2 linked regions of the Homo sapiens genome follow. The protein of the gene in region 2 purifies or fractionates together with the protein of the main gene of each other region. This does not show direct contact. Each region holds a gene or a part of one and is shown on either strand. Other genes may lie near its edges.

Region 1 (3,500 bases), on a different chromosome or scaffold from region 2:
GTAGCTGGGATTACAGGCGTGCGCCCTGTACTCCCAGCTAATTTTTGTATTTTTAGTAGAGACGAGGGTTTCACCATGTTAGCCAGGATGGTCTCAATCTCCTGACCTCGTGATCCGCCTGCCTCCGCTTTTCAAAGTGCTGGGTTTACAGGCCCGAGCCACCGTGCCCAGCTGCCATTTCCAATTCTAATTAATAAATGATCCATTTCTTTCCATTCGATCGGTGTTTGCTTCATGGATTTTGGGCTCTGTGGTTAGATGCATTCACACGTATCATTGCTGTATCTTCCTGCTGTATTGGCCTGTTTCTGGCTGTGAAGTCCTTGCTCCTTCTTGTTTCTAGCTTTTTTTTGAGACAGGGTCTTGGTTTGTCACCCAGGCTGGAGTGCAGTGGCGCAATCTCGGCTCACTGCAACCTCCATCTCACGAGTTCAAGTGATTCTCATACCTGAGCCTCCCGAGTAGCTGGGATTACAGGTGTGCGCCACCACACCCAGGTGATTTTTGTAGAGACAGGGTTTCACCATGTTGGCCAGGCTGGTTTCTAATATTTCTTAACATCTGTTTTGTCTGGTATGAGTACAGCCATTCAAGCTCTCCTATGACAGCTGATGTTTGTACGCTGCGTCTTTTCCTGTTCTCTAGCAGACAGCATACAGTTAGATCTTGTTTTTCTATCTGATAATCTGCCCTGTCTGTTTGGGGCACAGAGACCTTTCACATGTCATATAATTACACGTACAGTTGGATTTACTTTCCTTGCTTTGTTGTGTCTTTTTTATTCTTCCCTTTTTGATTTTAAATTACATATGTTTAGCATACCATTTTAATTTATTTGTACTTTTTAAAACACTAAGAAAACAACTTTCTTAGTGGTTGCTCTAGGGATCACCGTATGCCTCATGATACTAGCTCAAGTCCAGTACAATATAAAACTGTTGTAACACAGCTTTATTCCCTGTCTTCTTTGTGCAGTCCATTTATGCCACATACCATGACAACAGTGTAATTATTTTATACAATCGTAGTTCCAGTAAAACCTAAGATGTGAGGAGAGATAGTTACAGGATATTGACGTCAACCTACACTTGCTATCTGCAGTGCCTGTCCTTCCTTCCTGAGGATTCAAGTTACCGTCTGGTGTCATTTCTATTCAACTTGAAGGTCTTCCTTTAGTATTTCCTTTAAGGCAGGTTTCGCCAACAATGAATCCCACCAGTCTCTGCTTCTCAGGGAATGTCGTTCGTTCCCTTTCACTTGTGTAGAACGGTTTTGATTCCTGGCTGATGGTTCTTCTCTCTGAGCAGCTTGAGTATGCCACTCCACTGCCTTCTGGCCTCCATTGTTTCTAAGAAGTCAGTGGCTGGCGGTATTGAAGCTCCCCTTTCATGGGATGGGTCATTCTTCTCTGAGGCCTTTCAACATTTTCTCTTTGGCCTTTGCCAGTTTGACTATGATGTGACTTTGCATTTATTCTAGTTCAAACTTCCTGTGCTCTTGAATGTGCATATTTTTTAATTAAAATTTGGAAAGTTTTTAACCATTATTGTAACAAATATCTTTCCTCTCTCCTGGAACCCCCATTCGACGTGCTTTGGTACAGCAGATGTTGTACCACGGGTTTCTGAGGCTCTGTGCATTTTTCTTGTTTTTTTCTCTCTGTTCTTCAGAATGGATAATTTCTACTGCTCCATCCACAAGTTGTTTCCAAGCCTTTACTAAATTCAACATCTGGACACTCAGACAGTTTTTACTGATGATGTTCTTCCTCAGTATGGGTCACACTGTCATACTTCTTTGTATTTTAGATAATACATTTGTAGCAATTCTGGATTCTAAGTTTTCCCTTTCGTTGTTACCACCGAGGCCTGTCTGGTTGTCCGTGAAATCCATCTCCCTCACAGCTCGTGGCCACCCCGTTCCTTCCCACATGCCTATTTTAATTTTCAACCTTGGCTTCCTAGGGGTCACCACCATGGCTGCACAGCTTAGCAATTAGCCAGCACTGGAAAAAGGCTGGGCTCAAATACCTCGAGCACAGTAAGGCTTCCTTGGCCCACGGCTGTGTGTGGACAGGGAGCACACTGAACGTTCACGCGTCATTCGCATCTGTGGCGGCTTCTATTTTCTGCCAGGTCCTTTCACGCAGCTGCATCCTCAGGGCTGGTCACAAGTGGGTGGCGGCTCGAGCTCTCTCCAGTCTCTGCTGCACGTCTTTGGCGAGATCACAGCTGCTCCCAACCACACTGTACTTCATTCTAGCAGACCTCTTGGCCTTTTCTTCCTCCCTCCACTGAGGATGCTGGTGGGCAAGGCCACTGCCCACTGCTCTAAACGGAGTAACCCCTTCCAAGGCAGCAAGGAAACTGCAGGTCCTGCAGCTGCCCTGTCCCAGTGGAACCTCCGTGCTTCCCAAGTGCAGAGTGGAAGCAGTAAAGGGAGCAGCTCTCAGGCCAGAAGGTCAGATTCTTACTGCTTTCACCCACAGCTCAGCAGTTTTCCAAGCATCAGTGCTTCTCAGATTATCCTTATCAGTTTCCTTTTTGTCAGAGACAAGGTCTCCCTACGTTGCCCAGGCTGGCGTCATGCGGTCCTCTGGCCTTAGCCTCCCACGTAGCATATGCTACCATACCCAGTTCTGGATTGGCTGATCTGAATCGGCCCTACCCAGAAGTCTGCCCCCAACAATTTTTGCTCATTCACTCTCCTGTCTTTACCTTCTGGGAAATCAATATGACAGCCCAAATTTCATCTACCAACCTCCACTTCTATCCCAAGCTGTACTCTCGTGGGACAAGACACACTCAATGTCTGGCACAGGGTGTGGCATACATGAATGTTTCACACACTAACAGGAACTAGGCCAACTGAAACCTTGCTCACCCCGCAGCGGTCTCGGACCTTGACCCCTGGGCCTCAGTGTCTCCCACACCCTTCGGCATCAACAAGAACCAGCGCCCTCTCATCATCTTTACATGCTGTGTACCCAGCCCTGGCTGCTGGCAAACATCGCTGCCCTTCCGCTTCAGACTCCTCTCTTCCTGGAGCAGCTTGCAAGCTTTCTGTGGACTCACTCTGAAGGCGGAGATGGGCCTGCTCCCACCTGGCCTACAGCCTTTTTCCTGGTTCACGGAACAGATCTGGGGCTACACCGATGTTCTTTCTTGGGAATCTGGCTCATAAAGGGGAACGAATATATAAACTAATGGCCAGGAGTCCTGGGAGTCCAGGGTCCCGAATTCCAGACTGTTTCAAGGTTTTTAGGATCTCCCTTCTCCTTTTTTTGAGACAGTCTCACTCTGTCAACCAGGCTGGAGTGCAATAGCATGGTCATAGCTTACTGCAGCCTTGACCTCCAGGCTCAAGGGATCCAACCACCTCAGCCTCCTAAAGTGCTAGGATTACAGGCATGAGCCACCGCGCCCGGCCGGACATGCAGATTTCTGATCCCTTCATTGTCTTCCCTCAATCAAATCACACCCGTTCTTACTTCCAGATGC
Region 2 (3,500 bases):
ACTAAAATGGAATTCTGGACCAAAGATGAACCAAGAAGTGGTGTCTCTGATACCTGTCCATCTACTTTTGGTTTCCTAGCTGCCTGATTAGCCTATTAAAATAAAACACAGAAGAAGCAGTGATATAGCAAAATAATTTAATGCAAATTTCTTGTCTTATAAAAGTTATATATTAAAAACATTATATATTAAACATATGGAAATAAAATGACCTGGGGTTCAAGATTTTATGTTGTCAGTAAATAAATGCCTTAGAGGCATAAAAGGCTATAAAAAATTGAAAACACCCATTTTAGAATCAGATACAAGTTAAATCCTAGCCCAGCACTTCAGAAAGTAATTTAACTTGTCTAGGCTTCAGTTTCCCCATTTGTAAAATGAAGAGGATACTTTTGTCATAATCACTGCAAAAAATTTTTTAAAAGTATAATGTACTTTAGCAAAGTCCACTGGACTCAGTAGTTGAATATGTGAGTATATGTAACTTGAGATACGTTGAATTATTCAGGAATACTGCAAAGATTATTTAACCACAAAAATTCAAACTGGTTAGCTATGTAAATGTTACATAAAAGACTGAAATTCTGTTAAACCCTGTCAATTCTCTTACCCTCCAGTTTCGAATCTTCTTCAACCTATTAGGCGTTTTCTCCAATATTTGTAGAAACTCATGTGTTAGCTCTAAAAATAAAATTTAAATTTGAAACTTAGAAGGTGCCTTTAGGATTTAAATTTCTCTTAAGTGGGCAGTATTAAAAAGGAATGCTAGGAGTTCATCTACTTCACTTTTACCCTCCTATTAAATCCTCAGCATACACAGAAGTACACACAACTCTCAACCGGCATTTTCAAAGCTGAATCCTTTTGTAACGATTACTTTCCCTCTTGATTTTACTTGCTTAATTAGAATCTCTAGAAAATCTAGTAGCATTAAAAATAATCACCCCCCCAATAAAAAAAAAATCTTCATTAGGCAAACACCACAATAATTTTTGTCACAGACAAGATCTATCAAAAGATTCTTTAAAATTAGTGGACAAAAGTTTGAGGAAAAACGTTATTTGTATAATCCCAACGTATCTTCCCCATGAAATGTATTAATTACAAAGAGAAAAAAAATAGTGACTTTAAAGTGCAGAAACCACTTTAAGGATACCACTGTAACCAAGTGATCACGGTTGTCATGACCAGTTATAAGACGTATCAACATACTGTACCCCTTGATATGATGCACCAAGCAAGACCCAATTTACTTCTATGGTATTCTTGCTCAAAATGGATAACTTCGACATAATAATGAGAAATCATCAGACAAACCCCAACTAAGGAACACTGTATAAAATGACCATTATTCTCCTAAGTGTCAGTGTTATGAAAGACAAGGAAAGATTGGAGAACTGTCACAGACTGGAGAAGACTTGAAGGGACATGTCAACTAAATGGAACATGGGATCCTAGAATAGGGAAAAATATGGAATACTGAATAACATCTGTGGTTTAGTTAACAGTATTGTACCAATGTTAACTTCCTAGTTTTGATAATCATATATTGTTATGTAAGATGTTAGTACCAGGAGAAGCTAAAGGGTATACAGGGAACTATGCAATATTTTGCATTTCTTTCTTTCTTTTTTTTGTTAAATAACAGAGACAGGGTCTCGCTATGTTGACCAGGCTGGTCTCAAACTCCTGGCCTCAAGTGATCCTCCTATCTTGGCCTCCCAAAGTGCTGGAATTACAGGTGTGAGCCACCACACCCAGACTTTTTTTTTAAAGGGGAAAATTCCTCCAAATATACTTCCTAGCTATCAACACTATTAATATATTAGCAAACTATCTTCATTGTAAATTTCTACCAACTTTCTTAAAATTCTGATTACAATCAAATGACCCACTTTTCCAAAGTAGTGTGGTTTTGATGAACTAATAATGTCATTAATAGTTACTAGCCACTCTCAAATATTCATCAGTCAAATACATCAGAATATTATATAATATTAATAATGCCAATTCCACCTCAATACTGGGGGAACCTCTATTAATAGAGACTACAGGTTCATTTTGTAATAGCAAGCTTTTTTGTAAACTATTCTAAGCCAATGTTAAGATCGACACTTCAGACAAGCTATAATTTAACCATTAATCTTTCAAGATGTAATTTCCTTGACAATGTCATGACTAGTCCCTGCTAAAGTCTCATGAGCTTTTTCATCCAGTTTGGATGAAAAAAACCCTAATGCCCAGACCTTTACTTCCTCATTTGAAAAAAAAAGAAAAAAAAAAAGACTATTTTTCTACTTTTGGGTCCAACATTAACAAAACTGTTTTGACTCAATTTCTGTTAACAACTTGGTTGTAAAACATTAAATACACTTCAAGTTCTGGTCCAAAATCTCGTACACAAAATGTAAGCTTTGTTTTTCTTAAGTATCCTACTGTATTAAATTTTATAGCAGAACAACAAAAGAATCTGTTAAATAATCCATTAACATAATTAATTAGCTATATGCACAAAAATCACAGTATGTGCCTAAAATAGAGGCCCTTCTCTCTCAAAGCTACTGTCTAAGCCAATGTTCTTTTCTGGAACACAATCATTAAGTGAATTATTTCAGTAAGTAATAAGAATAGTAGTATCACTTCACTCTACAATTCAGATAAATCTTCATGTCTTTTTTTTTCCCCCCAGACAGGGTTTCCTCTGTTGCCCAGGCTGGAGAGCAGTAGCATTATCACAGCTCACTACAACCTTGACGTCTCAGGCTCAGGTGATCCTCCCACCTTAGCCTCCACAGTAGTTGGGTCTATAGGAGTGCGCCACCATGCCCGGTTTGTGTGTATTTTTAGTAGAAACGTGGTTTTGCCATGTTGCTCAGGCTGGGCTCAAACTCCTGTGCTCAAGATATGTGAGTGACTGCACCCGGCCACACCTTCATGTCTTTAATTTTGAATTGCCTTTTTGTGACTGACACAGAAAAAAAAGCTGCTGCAAAACATGGTGAAAGTCTTAACATATCAGTTCTCCAAGATTCCTATTCAATTGCTCTCCAAATTAACAAACTTTACTTTTCAGAATGGAAATGAGGTAGCTCCTCCTGTGTCAAAAAACCCCACATAAACCACAACCTAACCTCTGACCTAAAGACAGGATAAAAGGCAGATTACTTTTCTGTGATCTTTTTACTTCAGCACCAGGTATATAAACTATTTTTATTACGATTATGCCTACTGGCTGGGTGTGGTGGTTCACGCCTGTAATCCTAACACTTTGAGGCCAAGGTGGGTGGATCATGAGGTCAGGAGTTCAAGACCAGCCTGGCCAACATGGTGAAAACCCTATCTCTACTAAAAATACAAAAATTAGCCAGGCGTGGTGGCAGGCACCTGTAATCCCAGCTACTCAGGAGGCTGAGGCAGAGAACTGCTTGAACCCGGGAGGCGGAGGGTGCAGCGAGCCGAGATTGCGCCACCGCACTCTATAGCCTGGGCGACTGAGACTC

The links. Proteins that work in one complex are often made in the same cells at the same time.
Region 1: the proteins of CCNT2 (region 2) and CDK11B purify together in Homo sapiens (affinity purification with mass spectrometry, with the first as the bait; one large-scale study listed by BioGRID). This does not show direct contact.

Annotation. Positions count from the first base shown.
Region 1 is NC_000001.11:1,645,505-1,649,004, forward strand, and holds part of CDK11B (cyclin-dependent kinase 11B), read right to left. Parts: intron 1-3,500. UniProt on the Homo sapiens protein: Plays multiple roles in cell cycle progression, cytokinesis and apoptosis. Involved in pre-mRNA splicing in a kinase activity-dependent manner. Isoform 7 may act as a negative regulator of normal cell cycle progression.
Region 2 is NC_000002.12:134,949,822-134,953,321, reverse strand, and holds part of CCNT2 (cyclin-T2), read right to left. Parts: intron 682-3,500; coding exon 611-681; intron 93-610; coding exon 1-92. UniProt on the Homo sapiens protein: Regulatory subunit of the cyclin-dependent kinase pair (CDK9/cyclin T) complex, also called positive transcription elongation factor B (P-TEFB), which is proposed to facilitate the transition from abortive to production elongation by phosphorylating the CTD (carboxy-terminal domain) of the large subunit of RNA polymerase II (RNAP II).